Regions from separate parts of the Homo sapiens genome. Here region 2 is linked to region 1. Evidence: fine-mapped QTL for protein levels in blood plasma. A gene starts in region 1. The other region holds a variant in brackets. All regions are shown on one strand. Distances are between the middles of the regions.

Region 1 (9,492 bases):
AATCATGTCATCCTTAACAATATTAAATGACCTAAAACATCACCCACAATCACAGAGCTGATTAGTAATTAATGAAAGGTAACTTTATTCTAATATGCTGTCAAGAATAACAACAGCTGTTAAGCAGCATTAGCACCAGGAAAGCTTCAGTTGTAAAAGGCATACGCATTAAAGCCCTCAATTAACACAGTAGCTGAGGCCTTCAGGACTGCAAATTGTCTACAATAGTGACCTGGGAGTTTTCCAGATGTGATTTATTGGCCTCAAATTAATTTTTATGCCAACCGACTATGTTCTGAATCATTCAATTGACACCTTCAAATGGACATAAACAGGTTGTGATAACTAAAAAGCTCCAAGTTATAGCTTTTTTTTTTTTTTTTTGAGATGGAGTCTCACTCTGTTGCCCAGGCTGGAGTATAGTGGAGCAATCTTGGCTCACTGCAACCTCTGCCTCCCGGGTTCAAGCGATTCTCCTTAGTAGCTGGGATTACAGGCGCGCGCCATACCTGGCTAATTTTTGTATTTTTAGTAGAGACGGGGTTTCACCATGTTGGTCAGTCAGGCTGGTCTTGAACTCCTGACGTCGTGATCTGCCCGCCTCGGCCTCCCAAAGTGCTGGGATTACAGGCATGAGCCACCGTGCCAGGCCCAACCTATAGCTTTTAATAAGATGCGTAGCTCTCTACTTGAAGACAGTGATAGTAAACAATGTAATATAATGGCATAAATGCTTTCAAGGTCAACCCAAATTCACAGGTGTTTGAGAATTTAGGAATGCCAGAACCTTGATGTTCAATAACTACCATTGAGTGTAGATCATTTAGTCTGAGAAAAGGATGGAAAATCATGCATGAATGTCGAATGACAACAATAATGCAGAAATTGTTTTTATCAGCAAGCCTGATTACTGGTGCAGATGGACGATCTGGGTGAATATAAATATATTTTAAATCTTAAAACATGCCGCATGCATCTACAGAACTATTTTGTTTCATGGGTTTCCTGAATCACATACAATATTCATTTTACACTTACAAAGTGTAAAAAGAGGGGAAAAGCAAAGTAATGTGAGCTCCTACTTTTAAAAAAAAAAATCCTTAGCTGTAAAGTTAAAACGTATGCAATAAGTTTTTACCACAAAATGTGAACCACACTGGGGTTAGTGGTTTGCATTTTTATAATCAACAAATGTCCATCCTCTTATTCACATTTTAAGTCTCCTGTTAATGCCACCAAATATAAAACCAAATTGGAATATTGTTTCATGAAAGACCTCTGGCTACACACAAATTCTTAGGTTATATTCTTTACTCTGACAACTCTCAGCACTTTATTATAACTCTTAAAATTGAGGACCTGCACTATTAAATATTTTACACTTTCATTTTCCAACTTACACTCAACATAACCTCTTAAGAATATGTATACACACATACATATATATATCACAGAAAGTGTTCAGCCTGTTGCCAACATCAACTGTAATTTAAAAACTCTAACCGAAAATTTTTTAAAAGTTTTTTTAGAGCCTCAGATGATCTAAATTTTACAGTGAGCATGGTAAATTTGAGAAATAGGATTTTGATCCTATGCTGCTTGGGAGAAAAAGTAATGGGAAAAGAAATGTAACTCAGCTCTTTCCATTTATTTTCCATTAAAATGTTGCTACACTTTCAAAGTGTTGGTAGGTTCTGAAAATGCAGTGTTCCTATCTATGACTAGTCAAAAACGACCAACAAGCCATCCCTAGTTTACATCTTTAAAAGAAAAATAGGGAACGAAGAAAGGACATTTATGCTGATTTATTAAACAATAACTTTTTTTCTTTAAACTGTTTATAATCTGCCTAAAGAACAGGTCCAATACATACTTTTAAAAATCGGCCTGGTTCTCTGGCCCCCTGATCATTCTATGCGCTGTAATTCAAGGAGAGCAGAAGGCTGGGAATGCGCAGAGTGAAAGGAAAGTGGGTGCAGATGGCCTCAGAGGGGCAGGTGACCCCTGAAAACTGTTAGTCGACAGCAACCGATCATTCTAGACCTCCATGGCCTTAGTGTCTCACGCTAAACTCGCAAAAAAGTGCCCTTTCAGGGCTATCCTCTGGGCGCTCAAGATTTAGGATTTTGAAGGAAGAAGGTGAAAGCGGGGGAAGACGATTTTAAAAGAAGGGCTGGGTTATTAAATTGAAAAGATTAATCCCGGAGCCTTCCCCTCTGTCAAAAAACCCTGAAAGTGACTAAATTGACACCAACTCTGGATGTTCCTTAGGAAAAAAACAAAACAAAACAAAACAAAACAAGATTAAAAAGGGCCCAATTTAAGACCCTTATTAATACATCTGCAAGAGAGCAAAGAATAACAACAACAACAAAAGTTATACAGTCAATTTTCAATGATACATCGTCCCACTGGTGCCACCGGGGCGCCACCACCCAGCACCCGAGACCCGCCGCGCCCCCGGAAAAAGTGGGAAGGGACGTAGGGGGATGCTGAAGGAAGTACCTTGTTTTGTCTCCAAAGGGCAACATAGCAAACGTGGGAAGTTCGTTTTCGAACTCCGCCGATCCTGGACTCCAGGAGGCTCCGTAGGGGCAACAACGCGCGCAGGTGAGGTGAGGTGAGGTCGGCGACTCAGAACCAGCTCCCTCACGGCCCCGGCCTCCGCGCCGCCGCCCGTCGCCTCCCGCTCGCCCCGCGCTGCGCCGCCCCCTGGCGGGGAGCGACCGGCAGAGCCGCGGCCGCGCGCCGGCGAGTGGGACCCGGGCGTCGAACCCGGGCGGGCTCCTCGACCATCACTGCCGGGCGTGTGTCACCCTCCCGGCCAAGACGGCCAGCACCCGCTGCCCGACGGCCGCTGCCCAGAGCAGGCGGCAGCGGGGCACGGACTCTTTCTGCAAAGGGGCGCGTCCTGGAGTCCACGCACCCCGACTATGCATCAATTCCTCAGGCTTCGGGGCACCCGCCCGCCAAGCACTCTCTGCTCCACTCTTCTTGTCCCTCTGCTCCCAGTCTCAATTCCTCCCCAACTCTCCCGCGAGCGTTTCCCACGAGCGCCCCGACTGCCCGCTGCGCAGCCGCCTCCAAAAGGACAGGCTCCCTCCTCCCCGCCCTCCGCAAGGGCCGCCCCGGCGCTTGGCTCTGGACCAGAAAGAGCTGGCCTCTGGGGTCTGCGCTGCCCCTTGGGGTCCGCTCCAGGCGGCGCCTCCCCTGCGCCCTTTGTGTGCACGCCGCAAACCCCTCTGCAGAGCTCTACTTTTGGCGGCACAGCCTTCGGCGGAAAAGCGAGTGAAAGGAGGCGCGCGGGACAAGCAGGAGACTGGAAGGGGGGAAAAGGCAACCGCACTCACTTTGGCAAGGTTCCGTCATGTTGCCTTTGGGCTGTCCCGTGGACTCGTCCCTCACCCCAGCTTCCCCGCCCAGCCAGGGCCAGGGCGAGGGGGGACGGGGGAGGAGCGGAGCCATCAAGACCGACTTGGAAATGGTGCTTCCGGAGCTGCAGGGAAGGGGCTCAGAAACTGTTTGGGTTTTGCTGATTGGATTTTGGGGAACCAGAGGGCTAGAGAGGGGCTAGGGGAAGGCCCGTGAGCACGGATGTATGAAAATAATCATGTTCCCGGGGAATACCAAGAGGGTCGGGGGTGAGGGTGGGAGGTCGGCAAGTACATTTTTGTATTTGAACTTTGTGAGCAAGTTGTATCAAATCCGACACTTGAGTTTTTCGACTGTGCTCGCTTAGAGTTGAGGTTTCTACCTCGTAACAGGACCGAGGACCTACTTCAAAAGCAAAGGGCCTGGGAACAGGGGTGAACGAAGGGCACAATTCAACAGGGGAGAGAAATCAGCCCCGGGTCTTCCGTGGGTCCTCTTCTTACCTGGTGGCTTTTCTAACAAAGTATGAGAAGGTAAAGTCCCAGTGATCGTCCAGCCATGCTTCGACCGAGTCCTGATCCCTCTGCTGCTGCTTCTGCTGCTGGGGCTGCTGCTGCTGTCGCTGCTGCCCGAAGCTGGGGCCGGCCCGCTCCATGGTTGGCACCGCGCGCCTCGGAGGCTCTCTGGTACTGCTTTTCCACCCCAGCTGGGGTCCGTCCCTCAGAAGAACAGGACTCGGCCTCGAGACCCTCCCCCTTCGTCCTGCTCCAGTCGGGCCGGCTTTCGACAAAGCGGCCGGAGCGCCAGGCCAGCCTCCTGCCCCGCCCCGCCCCGCGCGGTTCTACGGGCGCCCAGGTGTGGTGGGCGGGGCCAGGCGCAGCTGCTGCGCCCCCCCCACCCGGGGTCCGGCAGTGTTCCGCTCTCGCAGGCTCTTCAGTCCCCTGGTTCCCAGGAGGCGGCGGCGGCGGCGGCAGCGGCAGCGCCCGGCGAGCTCTCCGGAAGCCAAGTGGCGGCGGCTGGAAGGAGGCCGCGCGGCCGCTGGGGTGCGCTGTGTGCCAAGCCGACTTCTGGGGAGCGCGCTAGGTGACTGGGTGTGTTCTCAGAGTGCCCCAGGGAGGGAAGGTCGCGATGTGGGAAGTTTTGCCCGAAAGTAAGAGATGATGAGACCCTGGGCCCTTTTCCTGGGGCCTGGGAGTGCAATGACCTTCCCGCCTAGCTTTTCCCTAGCCCTACGCTTGGGTCTGGGAGGAGCGGGACCGACCTCCTTCAGAGCCCAGCCCGCTCAGTGACTTAAAGCGGTCCAGCCACGGACCACTGCGGGTGGAGAGAGCTGGGGCGTGTGCTAGCAAGAGAGATTTGCAGGTGTAGGTGGGTAACTTGCAACAAAGCCATACCCGTGCTTAATGTTAATGATAACAGCAATAATTATAACTTAAGTGCCTTTAACCATTGCCTCAAACTTCCCTTATGCATAACTGGAAAAAGATTTACTTGGAAAAGAAAAAGCAAACAAATAATTTCCAATGCTTTGTGCATGAAGTTAGAAAACAAGGGCACCTCTGTACAATTAGGTTAATCCGAGAGCACTGGCGCAACCCAGGTGCAGTCGAGGGCAACCAGTTATCCCAATTTTAAATTAATGCATCATTTTAATTAAATTGGAATTAACACTCCCTCAAAAGTATCCATTAAAAATGGCTCAGCCTTTTTGTCCAATCCCTATCTTGCTTCTTTAAAAAAGGAATTGGTGTCATCCTTTGCTTTGTCTGCATCCCCATCTTCCTGTCATGCATTGGCAGTTTTAATATGGCATTTTGCAATGACCTATATTTTTTGGTAGAATTAAATCTGGAATTATGGGTTGCACAATGTGTGAATGACACCATTAGCAGTGATATAAAAAAAAATGAGTTAGCTGATATACTTCTGACAACTTCCTTCTAAATACTCTTGGCAAGAATTTAAGGCATTATTCACTACATAGAAACACATCATTAAATTGATAATCTGAGAACTTTTAAAAGTATCTTCTAGTCCCCCAATGCAATGGTTTATCTTTCCTTCATTGAGTAATTGACCTTTTGCGACTTCAGTTTTTCTGAAACTTTACTGCTGTATGCAGGTAGCCACAACCAAAGAAAAGCAATCAAAGCAGTAGAGTATGAACTAATGGGTGATAAATTATATTGGATTTAGAAATGAGAATTCTCTCCTAATGTGTTACTATGATAGTGATTATAGTGCTCATGGAATACAGTCATGCGTCACCGAACAACAGGATACATTCTGAGAAATGTATCCTTAGGCAATTTCATCCTTCTCTGAACATCACAGTGTACTAACACAAAATAGATGGCTCAGCCTACTACACACTTAGGCTATTGCTCCTAGACCACAAATCTATACAGCATATTACTGTACTGAATACTGTAGGCAATTGTAATGCAATGATATTTGTGTGTCTAAACATATCTAAACATAGAAAAGGTACAGTAAAAATATAGTATTATCTTATGGGACTCATATATGTGGTCTGTCGTTGACTGAAAAGTGGCACATTACTGTGGAAAGTTTCTCCTCAGTACAGTTTTTTCTTGTGGAAATCCATGCATTCCTCCTAACAGGAGATCAATCGTAATTTAAAACTCTGCTTATCTACTAAAGATGCAGTGAATTTGGGGCTTGAATTATTTGCTTTTGTTGGATACTTGATTAAATAAACACGTATAATCATTTCAATGTTTGTATTCCCTCCAAAATTCATGTTGAAACTTAATCCCTAATTCAACAGTATTAAGAGGAGGTGCCTTTAAGTGGTGATTAGACCATTAGGGCTCTGCCTTTGTGAATGCATTAGTGCCTTTTTAAAAAAAGGCCCAAAGGAGACAGTTGGCCCCTTCTATTCTTTCCACTATGTGAAGACACAGCACTGACCCTTGCTGAGGATGCAGCAACAAGGTGCCATTTTGTAAGCAAAGAGCAGCCCTCACCAGTTGCCAAATCTGCTGGCACTTTGATTTTGGAGTTTCCAGCCTCCAGAACTGAGAGAAATTAATTTCTATTGTTTATAAATATCCCAGTCTGTGATATTTTATTACAGCAACACAAATGGACTAAGACAGTGGGTAATATCAAAATGTTCATTTTTCTCTCCTAACCTGAAAGGGTTAAATTATCAGAAACCAGGAAGGTTTCTGAAAAATTGCTTCAAGAAAAACAATCTATAGGCTGGGCACAGTGGCTCATTCCTGTAATCTCAGAACTTTGGGAGGGAGAGGTAGAAGGATACTTGAGCTCAGGAGTTTGAACCAGCCTGGGCCACATGGCATGACCCCATCTCTACACAAAATTTTTAAAAATTAGCCAGGCATGGGGGAACACACCTGTAATCCTAGTTATTCGAGAGGCTGAGGCAAGAGGATTGAGCCCAGGAGGTCAAGGCTGCAGTGAGCCATGATCGTGCCATTGCACTTCAGCCTCAGTGACAGTGTAAGACCCCCGGCTCTATAACAAAAAAGAAAAAAAAAGAAAAACAGTACATAGATTCTCTCAATAGTGAATCTCAAGTCTGTGTGGTATATATGATAGTTTGGGAGTTACTGTGAAGGCCTATTACCTGAGAAACATATCACAAGGGATTGGGGAACAGAAGTGTCTCAAACAGTTCTAGTCTCTGGGAGATTCAGCCAAAATGTGTAACTATACCTCCTGTAAATTTAAAGTAGTTAAAGGTAAGCATATTTTGAACTGACATTACCTGGGCCTCTTGTTTTTCAACTCCATTTTATTCTTTATCCCAATTTGCCCAATTATTTTGTTTTAACTTGGCATGAATTGTTCTAAGCACCTCAAATCTTGTTATGGAATTAGTTGAAGAATAAGTAAATCATAAACACTCCCAGGATATAACTTGAAAAATGCTGTTAATGCTATTTATAACAAACAAATGAGCAATGATGTATGTATGTGTATATGTATGATATATATATGTGTGTATATGTATATATATATTTAATTTTTGTAAATGACCCAGTCTGTGGTATTTTGTTATTGCAACACAAGTGGACTAAGATATATATATATATATATATAAAATCAATGATATATATGTGTATATACATACATATATGTCATTGCTCATTTGTTGCTCATGAGCAACAGCTTAACTAAAGACCTTCAATGTATTCCCACTGTGCTAAAATAAAATTCAAACTCTGTAACGTGGCTTATGGGGTTCTACATTATTTGGTTGTTACCTACCTGTACTGCTAAAGATTTTGGTCATACAAATAGAAAAAACAAATGCAACAAAGCAAAAACACAAAAAAGAAATATAAGGCATAAAAATGAAAAAGTAAACATTCTCCATTTGCAGACATGAGTATCTATGAGGAATACCCAAAGGAATGCACAAAGCAACTACAAGAATTAAGAGGTGATTCAGCAAGCTTGCAGCATAAATGGTCAGTATACAAAAATCAATTGTATCTCTGTATACTAGTCTTATGGGCTGATTTGTTTCCCCAGATTCATATGTTGAAGCCCTAACCCCTAGTACCACAGAATGTGATTGTATTTGGAGATAGGGCCTTTAAAGAGGCAATCAAGGTTAGATGAGGTCATGAGAGTGGTCCCTAATCCAATCTGACTGGTGCCACTATAAGAAGAGGGAATTTGCACACACAAAAAAGTGACACCGGTGATACTCTCCCACAGAGGGATAACCGTGTGAAGAGGCAGCAAGAGAATGGCCATTTGCAAACCGAGGAGAGACACCTCCAAGGAATCCAACCTGCTGGCACCTTGATCTTGGACTTCTAGTCCCCAGCACAGTGGCAAGATCAATTTCTGTTATTTAAGCCACCCAGCGTGTGGTACTTTGTTACGGCAACACTAACAAACTAATACAACTAACAGTGAACAATTTGAAAACAATATTATTTATAATCGTGTAAAAAACATTAAATACTTAGGGATAAATTTGGCAAAATATACATAAGAAATATACACTAAAAGTTATAAAACATTACTGGGAGAAATGCAAAAAGACCTAAATAAATGGACAGATACATTCATTGATCGGCAGACTCAATATTATTATGATGTTTATTCTTTCCAAACCGAGCAATATGATCCCAATCGTATTTCAGCAGACATTTTCATGGAAAGCGAAAATCAGATAACAAATTTTCTATGGAAATGCAAGAGATACAGAATGGCAAAACAATATTGAAAAAGAATAAAACTAGAGAACTTATGCTACCTAGCTTTAAGATTTACTATAAAGCTATAATAATCAAGGCAGTATGGCATTTGCATATGGTTAGTCAAACAGAACCATAGAATAGAATAAAGAGTTTAGAAATATCATTTATACAACTAGTTGATTTTCAACAAAGGTACCAGTTATTCTTTAAATAAAAGTAAAGTTTTTTTCAATAAATAATGCTTTAACAACTGGATCTTTATATGGAAAAATAGTATCCTCAACCAATATTTTATATTATATATAAACGTTAATTAGGAATGAAACAGATCTAAAAACTAAATGTGATTTCTAGGAGGCGACATAGAAGAATATCTTTACAACTTGGGAGCAGCAGGGATTTCTTAGGAGGACACAGAAATCAATTAACTGTACGGAAACAACAACAACATCTAGATTTTATTAAAATCTTTTACTCTTTGAAAGACACTATAAGGAAAATAAAAATCCACAAACTAGAAGAAAATGTTTGCAAAACATTTATCTAACAGGGACTTGTATCCAGAATACATAGAGAACTCCACAGCTTAATAATAAAAAGATAAATGTCTCAATAGGGGAAAAACTAGCAAAGGACTTAAGCAGACACTTAATAAAGTAAGACATGTGAAAGTTCACTAAGCACATGTAAAAATACTCAACACCTAAGTCTTCAGGGAAATGCAAGTTAAACCACCGTGAGATCTGCCTCCACCCTCTAGAATGGTCAAAATTAAAAAGACTGCTAACGCCACATGATGTTTGGTGTTAGATATGTAGCAGTCAGAACTCTCACACATTGCTGGTAGGAAGTTAAAATGGTATAACCACTTTTGAAAAAGGTTTTGCCTTTTTCTTATAAAGTTAAGAATAAG
Region 2 (9,639 bases), 27 kb after region 1:
TATTTTTAGTAGAGACAAGGTTTCACCATGTTGGTTAGGCTGGTCTCTAACTCCTGACCTTGTGATCAGCCCACCTCAGCCTCCCAAAGTGCTGGGATTACAGGCGTGAGCCACCGCACCTGGCCTGTTGAGGGAATACTTTATGTCAGACATGGCCCTAAGATTTTACACACCTCATCTCATTTAAACTTTCCCACATTCAGTAAGGTAGATTTTCTTTCCATTTTATAAATGAGGAAGTAGGTTTACAGAGCTTAAGAATTTCTTCTAGATGTTTATGAGGATGATCTCTAATCATATAATGGGTTGTATAAACATCAATTAAGGTCACACAAATCAAGTGACAAGTGAAGTATGAATACTACTAGTAGGATGCTTAAATGTAGCTAGTCTAGGGACAAAATCAAAATATAATATAAATAGAAGATGTAATGTAACAACAATTTGAATATCTCTTATTTTGCGACAATAAATCACTCATTCCTATTAGCAAGTAGCTCAGCATATCCATCTTAAACTCCACCTCCTCTACCAATTTAACATGAATCATACATGTGTCAAACATGTATAATAGATGTATTTAAAAACGCCCAGTATTATGCATTAAATATAGGAAGTGCTTGTTAAAGTTTGGTTGAATAAAGGTTAGCAAATATATACTTTGAAATGCACAGTAACAAATAGGGGAAACAAATGGAATGTTTGATACCATTTCCAAAGTTACAGACTGATTTAAAAAATAGTTGCTACAGAATGACTGACCTGGTATGTATCCCCTTTCAAAAAAAGTTTAAAAGCACCCCATGAACTTGAAAGATGGAATTGCAAAAAGTCTCCCAACTCTGAGTCATTCTACAGCTACAGAATAAAAATCCTTTATGTATGGAAGAGTATTGCTTTTGATTTTTGGAGGGCTACATTTTACATGTGACCACCAATCACCATTTGACATAGACATTTCTGCTCTCTACTGGCATTCATTATTTTCCTTCATCTAACAATATCCAGGCCTTATGCAGGTATCTTCTACTGTCTCACACCTCACATGGGCCTAAGGAGGACCTGACTTCACTGCTGGATCCAGGGATGACTTTGCTGTATCTAAGGCTAAGTTCATTCCTAGAGCCAGTGATTGGTACAGAAGATGATGTGTGACCCAATTAATAATATTAGGGTGGATTTTCAAAGGATTCTTTGAGAAGCATTCATCATTGTAATGAGAGAGATTCTCAGTGTGACCCTCTTCTTCGAACATTGTCAGGATCCTTCTATAGCTGTTTTGCTACTACCCTGAACATGAAGCTTCTATTAAGAACAGAGAAATGAGCTAGAACCACAGAATAAAATCACCTGCCCTCCTTCTCTTCTTCCAGAAGTAAAATATTTCCAGTCTCTCTTCTAGACGAGAAGCCAATTAATACCTGATTGTTTAGGCTAGTTTGAGTTGGGCTTTCTGTTATTTGTAGGTGAAACTATTCTAACCGATACACCATCCACATTTTATTCTAATCAACAGTTCTGCTGTAAATATAACTCTGGTGTTGAGTCAATACAACACATTAAAAAAAGACAGGCCTGACTCATGGTATCAAAATGGTAGGACTGTCTTGCAAACCCAGAAGTTTATACATAGGGGCCTGCCAAGTCAAATACAGCCCTTCTGAAGACCACATTAGTTTAAAAACTTAGCAATTCAAATATGCCTGTGCATCTGAAGTCATCAAGTTCTAGTTCCCTAACATTGTATATTGTATGTTTTGTGAAATTATATGTATCCTGTGATAGCAGGAAACTCAAGTAATAATTTATTTGGCAAAGAAAAGTGAAGAGTGAAGATGGGTACATAATTTATGTATGAATTCCTGTATAACCTTTGCATATTTTAACACCATATGGAATTACTACAATTTTTTTAAAAAGGCTTAAAAGATTTTAAAAAGCCAACAAATTAAGCCAAGACCACAAATTACTTTTAATGCACTTTTAAAGACCACTGGAATCACAGCCATTAAAATTTATTTCAATTAGGAATGATACTTTTTAAGCTCAAAAACAACATTTGACCCTTAAGTAGATGATGAAAATATACATAATTTAAAAAAGATATTCTGAATTTAAATGATCACAGAGCTATCAATATGGGGTTTCAAATTGAGACTATCTTAAGCAATTAACCTAAAATGCCATGTGCATTTTGTTCAAAGACCTAGCAGGGAAGAGCAATTAGCAATTTGTGAATTATCATTTTATTTATATTTATATTCCAAAAGTAAGCTCATGCCTTGAATATACTATAGAGTATAAAATAGGAACCTAATTTACTTAAAAACTTTAAAAGTTTTTATCTGTTAAATGATTACTTATGGCCTATAATCAAGTTACTATATATATTTTTTAAAGCAATTTTTGGGCCAGGTGCAGTGGCTCAAACCTGTAATCCCAGCTACTCAGGAGGCTGAGGTAGGAGGATTGCTTGGCATTCAAGACCAGCTTGGACAACATAGTGAGATCCCCATCTCTTAAAAAATATATTAAAAGCTTGGTAGGCTAAGGCAGGAGAATCACTTGAGCCCAGGAGTTTAAGCCTGAAGTGAGCTATGATTGGTCACAGCACTCCAGCTTGGGCAACAGAGTGAGACCGCCATCTCAAAAATGAAACAAAAAGCAATTAGTTTTTATGTCTTCTTAAGTTTGCTTATTTTCCATCCCAACTAGTATTCATGGCGTATTTATTTGGAGTAAAGTGGTAAAAACTAATCCCGCTCTTATGAAAGCTAGAATATTGGCTTTTGGAATTCCAGAGAGATTTCGTCTTAATATTTTGCATTTACTAAAATAAACAATAAATTTATCTTTTAAATAATTCAATAAAAAGTAGGACATCCAATCTGTTGGTCAGAATTTTTTCACTGTGTTGTCCCTGATGAATCTTATAGCAACTGTTTTCCAACTCATCCTTGAACTCATAGTTCATTATGTTAAACATTTATTACATCATGTGAAATAGCTACAATGTTGAAACCAAATTAGCAGATATTTATTGACTATCACTATATACAAAGTGCTTTATTTAAATACAATTATTTTCCCTGTTGGACTTAAAAGCCCAGATTATTTAAGCCACATTATCCCCTTATAAAAGGTAGAAACAGCATCCAAACCTTTTAATTTAAAGGAAACCTAATTATTAACTGTAAAGAAAATGTAGTTGCAAAACAAGTCAGTAAAAACCTGAATAGGTATGATAATCGTATCCACTATTAAGTTTAAATTTAAGAGATAAAATATCTCCTAAATGCCTTTTGAAATCCAAATCACCTTGCTTGTTCAAGCCTTTCCCAGTATCTAGTAAAAATGTGACTCTATTCAGATAGATTTATCCCGTATATTATTATTATGATTTTACAAAAGCTAAAGGATTTAGAATTTATAAAACTGTTTTTGCTGCTTTAGGACCCAAACGGGCAATGTTCTAGAAGGGCAGGTAAGTCATTTATTGAGAATAATTCAACTATTCATAGGATCCATAATGTTTTTTTAAGATTTATTCATCTATTTGTGTATTCATTGATGAAGAATTTTGAATACTTCCTATCTAAAATCGTCATTATTTAAAAGCGATTTGTGAAAATATACTATTACTGGGAAGATAGCTATTAGACTATTTATTTTCCATTCATTTTGCAAGGAAGTGTATCCCTCTGAGCTTGTTTGATTTGGATATGTATCCCTAAAATAAATATTGCTATGATGGCTTCCTGTTTAACGTCAGGCTAGTCAACTGACCATAGAAATCCTGCAGTTGTATTAGAAGTTCCTTCACATGGATTCCCATGTAAATGCTTTCATTATTTGGTATGTTAAAACCAACTGCTTCCACCTATATTCAAACTTTTATAGCGTTTTGTTCTTACACTTACAAAGAGACTAGAACTACTTTACAAAGATAATACTATTATTTTTAAATAATGATACTATGTCCCATTTAGATCAACATTTAACATATGCCACATTAATTTTGAGATGGATATTAAATTAGCTATTCTGGTTTCCTGGTTCTTGGCAAGTTATTTATGACTCTCTTTTTTCCTTATCTGCAAAAT[T/C]ACATTCCCCCAAATCTATTACCCTTCCTACAGCTGGACCCACATGCTCTGCCTTTCCTGCCATTCTAGGGGATAAGCATGGCTCTTGCCTCTCTGCTTGTGTACCAGGTCCTGTTCCTCCTTAATTTCTGTGAGCCTTTGCTGATCCCCTGCCTCTTCTGTATAATCACACTTTATTTCATCCCCAAAGCATCAATACATGCTGTGATACCTTCCAATCTTTTATATATATATGTATGTGTGTGTGTATATTACACGTAATATATATTATATATATTTATTTATATTTATAAAGAGCCCTCCCTCCACTCCACATCCCACCTCAGCTTTGCCCATTTTTCTGCTCCCCCTTTATGGTAGAATTCCCTGTTTTCTCTTTTCTTCTCCTCCTCATTCTCTGCCTGGGTCTTTTACCTGAACCTCCTTGATTTTTTTAAGCAATATTTCTACAAAATGTTTCAAAACAAATATCTTTCTATACCTGTCAGTTTGTAGAATTTTAATAAAATCTTACATAATCTTATCTGGATATGTAAATCCCATTTAAGCAAAATTGGAGTCCAGCTATCTATTTACCCATCTATGTAACTTTTTACATATTCTTTTTAAGGTATTTGCCAAATTTATTTTACTCTCTCACAGAACTCTCTCTCTGGAACTCACTGCAGTTAGGCTTTCTTCCCTTCCACTCCACAGAAAAGCACTCTTTAAGGTCACAAATGACCTCTGTCTTGCCACATCCAGCATAAAATTCTCAGTCCTCATCTAACTTGACCTATCAGCAGCATTTGGCACAGCTGACCATCCCTTCACCATTTTCTTCATTTGGTTTTCAAATCACTACACTGATCTGCTTTGAGCCCTATTTCACTGGCTGCCTTGTCTGTCTTTGTTGCTTGAGCTGCCTCTGCCTCCTGACCAGGACTCAGTCTTCAGCTCCCTTCTCTCTATTCATACTTATTTTCTGGCAATCTCATCTCTGAGCTGAAAACTCCCAACATAATATGTCCAGACAATGTTGAGAAAAATGGATTTTTATTTCTCATTGTGATATACAAACAATTAGAAAAGATTTGATAGCACCTCTTTTGATTCCATATTCCTCCCCTCACCCTGTCTGCTATCCTTGGAAGCAAATATGATTTTTATATGCTCATTTATTTGACAAATACTTATTGAGAAATATGTGCCATCTCTGTACTGTCTTACCTCTAATCTGGGCTTCTGATGGTTTCTGTCCTTTTTTCTGTTTTTCCTGGGCAACCTCATTCATTCCCACTACTTGAGGTATATTCTAAACCCTCTCAAATTCATATCTCCAGCCCAGACTTTCTTCACTGAACTGCAAACTCAAAGCTCTGCCTTCTAGGTTTCTTATACCTGGAACAGACACCTCAAATTCCATATTAAAGTTTAAATGCAATTTGATTACAAATTCAAAAAACACAAACAAACCTTGTTCTTCCTGCCTAAGTCAGAGATGAGTCATTCTCAATTCCTCCTCTTTCCCCAGTTCACATGCCTTTCTAAGTACCTCTGTAGCTGGTCACCTTATCTTTATTCCACTTCATCATTTCCTTGCCTTAACCATTTATTCTCTAAGGATCTCCTGGACTCCATTCTTGGATTCCTCCAATTCTTGCCCTACATTTCTGCCAGCATAATCTATCTAAATTGAAATCTGAATATTTCACATCCTTGAACAATATCTTTGATGACTCTATCTCCCATGAGGGAGGTTATGGTTGCTTTCATTGTAAGAATAATACCTCTTAACCCTCATCAGCTTGTCTGCAAAAGCTCTTATGTTCTGGCCCAACAGAAAGACTTGCAGATCTATGAAGCTGAAATGCTCTTCCAGATCTCTGTCTTGCATGTGTTACCACAACTTGAAATGCTTGGCCTTCACCTTGTGTGTCTGGTGAATATGCATTCTTTCATCAAGACTCAGATGAAATTATACTATCTTTGATGCTTCTTAAGCCCTGATGCCACTCAGATGTACATCCTCTCTCCTCTGTTATCATACCTTGTATAGATCTCTTTATTTATTTCCATGTATCTCATGTCATGTCATTATTTGTCTGTATGTCTGCCTACTCCACTGGACAGGAAAATTTATACAGGAAGAAACCATGTATTATGAAGCTTATAATTTTAGCATTTTTATTTTTATTTCATCTTTTCTACAGAACAGGGAACAGCTGATGTGCACTATCCTTTTGATGGATATTTTATAAGCTGAAGAAGTTTAGATTATAAGACAAAATTTCTTTTTCTAAAAGATAATAGTTATTTTTCTAAAATTAGTTACTTCCCACATATACAAGTTTTTCTGTTAAATTGAAATATAATTCATATACCACAAAATTCACCTTTTTAAAGTGTATGATTAAGGCTGGGTGTGGTGGTCCACACTTACAATCCCAGCTCTTTGGGAGGCTGAGGTGGGTGGATCACTTGAGGTAAGGAGTTCGAGACAAGCCTGGCCAACATGAAGAAACCCTGTCTCTACAAAAAATACAAAAATTAGCCAGGCATAGTGGGGCATGCCTGTAGTCCCAGTTACTCTGGAGGCTGAGGCACAAGAATCACTCGAACCCGGTGGAGGTTGCAGTGAGCCGAGATCACGCCACTGCACTCCAACCTGGGTACTCTGTCTCAAAAATAAACAAACAAACAACAAACAAATAAAGTATATAATTTAATGGTTTTTAGTATATTCTAAAACAAAATCATGCAACCATCACCGCTATCCAATTTCAGAACATTTTCATTACTTTCAAAATAAATCCTGACCCATTTAGTTGTCACTTCCCACTGCCTCCCATGCAGCCCAACTAATCGACTTTCTGTCTTAATAGTTTGCTTATTTTGGACATTTAATATAAATGAAATTATACAATATGTAGCCTTTTGTGTCTGGTTTCTTTCATTCAATATAATGTTTTCAAGGTTCATCTATGTAGTAACATGTATTATTTCTTTTTAGGACTGAGTAGTATTTCATCATAAGAGCATACCACATTTTGTTTATTCATTCTTCAATTGATTTTTCCACTTTTTGGCTATTATGAATAATGCTGCTATGAACATTCATGTGCAGGTTTTTGTGTAAACATATATTTTAAATTTTCTTGTATATTTAGGAGTAGAATTGCTGGGTCATATGACAAATCTATGTTTAACTTTTTGAGGAACCACCAAATCATTTTCCATAATGATCACACTATTTTACATTCCCACAAGCAATGTATGAGGGTTCCAATTTCTCTACATCCTTGCCAACACTTGTTATGGTCCATCTTCTAAATTATAGCTGTCTTAGTATGAACTGATATCTTATTGTGGTTATACAGGATTTGATAGCATCCTCCCATAAAAGGGTTATAAAAAGTTCCATTCTCTCTAAAATCAGCAAGTGAATATTTCATTTTATATTATGCTGAAATAAGTGGGAGTTACACATTTCAGAAAACAGAACAATCCTTTTTCTTATCTAAGCATCTTTAATGTTTCATAGAGCTTGTCATATTTTAAATTATTTCTTATTCTTCCTAAGATTGTCACTTATATTTCAATTTTTTTTTTGCAGTATAAGCCTCCCAAATGCAAACTTCTGAATTAAGATTTAACCTATGTTAATTTAGAGGGGAAAATATTTTCTAGCTTTCATCTTCCCATCCATCCTACTTGTAAGTGTTATATGACAGTATATAGTTAGCGATGGGGATAACACAGTTAATTTATAGTCCCTTGTGACTCTTTAGACTATTTTTTTCTTATATTCATAACCAATCTTTCCTGGTAATTAGCTTGTTTTTGTCAATGCTTAACCCACCCAACTTAGTATTATTTGAGAACTTAATTTTCTGCTCCCCAACATGGTGTTCAGCATTTGTAGTAGGTTTTAAAAACTAGGTAAATTTATTTGAACATGTGGTAGGGTGGAGTGACATTTGTTATAGTGGCTGTTTGTACTTTTCTGCACACATTCCCTTGGTTGAGTCTTACAAACCACAAATGAGGTGACTGTGATTGTAGCCAGCACTTTAGTTTCTAGTTAAAGAGAGGATTATTCCAGTTTACATAAAAAATGACAAGAATGATTTGTCCAGATGGATTCTGCAAGCTGATAAGATATGGCCAGATGCTTCAGGCCATTATCTGCTGTGTTAGGGATTTTGAGAGTCTTCTGTTGACATTTCCATGTATATTCTGATGAAGTGGTTGCTATGTGTTTTTCCATGCTTATGTAAATATTCATCTAAAGATCTTGCCTTCAAACACTTTAAGCATTTCTCAGTTTTGTTTGGAGGCTTTTAGCTTAGTCATTGACTGAATGTTTCATTCATTGATTTACTATTTATTCACCCTGGAACTATATTGGTATAACTGTAATTTTCATTATTGTTATTATTATTATTGAGACATTAAACTATTCGCTCCTCAAAGACCCTTTGACCCTTCCTTTAAGCTATCATGTGCTTACATAGTTGTGTATAACCTAACCTACCCATTCTACACAACCTTACCTTCAACATCCTAGCTTAAATATAACTTTACTCTTACGAGTGTGCATAGCTGAATATTTAGCTTAAATAATGTTGTCATCATGCTCATAAATATGTACAACTAAGCATTAAACACCATATAATTTTTACTAATATTCACAATTATTTTAATTTTGTTCTAGCATTCAAAAGTAAAAAGCATTTTATCTATCTATATATATATATATATTTTATTTTTTTATTTTTTTATTTTTTTGAGACAGAGTCTCACACTGTTGCCCAGGCTGGAGTGCAGTGGCGCGATCTCAGCTCACTGCAAACTCTGCCTCCTGGGTTCAAGCGATCATCTTGCCTCAGCCTCCCAAGTAGCTGGGATTACAGGTGCCTGCCACTACGCCCAGCTAATTTTTGTATTTATTTATTTATTTATTTTAACAGAGACAGGGTTTCACTGTGTTGGCCAGGCTGATCTCAAACTCCTGACCTCGTACTCTGCCTGTCTCACCCTCCCAAAGTGCTGGGATTACAAGCGTGAGCCACCACACCCGGCCAGCATTTATACTTCTGCCTGTTAATATACAGTGAGGAAAAGGGGAGTAAAGAGAATTATGTATGTGGTAGAATAACTCATACAACAGATAAAGTCTTGGGAGTTATTAGCTTAAATATGTCTCATCAGTGATGTATGGTTACCCACCGATCCAGACTCATGCATTTTTATTATAAAACACTTTATTTTGTGTTTTGCAATTTCTTTGTTACAACTCTGACTGTTTTAAAGAAAGGGGCTGACATTCTTAGTTATTCTCTAGATTGATGTTAGCAAGCAACTAGCCCTCCCAGTTCAAGCCTATCTTTCTTACCAGTAAAATTTCTTGTTTTTGTTGTCTGCATTTCTAGCAAAATTACATCTAATTTTTGTGACAGGAGCTTGTATAATGGGCTATAAAAATAGTTCTCTCCCCTGTCCTCCCAAGGATATGATATTATGCTTATTCAACTAACAATTTGAGGAAGATTAT

What was found. PIP is the posterior inclusion probability: the model's chance that the variant is causal. The UK Biobank Pharma Proteomics Project read protein levels with antibody pairs (Olink). The fine-mapping took linkage between variants from a reference panel, not from the people measured, so its PIPs are less certain.
Region 2: its variant is fine-mapped to the plasma level of the PDE5A protein (UK Biobank, PIP above 0.99).

What each region holds. Positions count from the first base shown.
Region 1 is chr4:119,624,645-119,634,136 of GRCh38, forward strand. PDE5A (phosphodiesterase 5A) reads right to left here and starts at 4,160. Exons shown (of 21, transcript NM_001083.4): 1 at 3,876-4,160. The coding sequence starts at 4,027. LOC107986192 (a long non-coding RNA gene) reads left to right here and starts at 3,146. Exons shown (of 1, transcript NR_165235.1): 1 at 3,146-6,111. RefSeq lists silencers at 2,594-2,873, 4,094-4,493 and an enhancer at 3,004-3,053.
Region 2 is chr4:119,651,560-119,661,198 of GRCh38, forward strand. No RefSeq gene overlaps it. Among named protein-coding and RNA genes, the nearest start is that of PDE5A, 28 kb to the left of the region's middle. The variant T/C (reference allele first, on the strand shown) is at 4,104.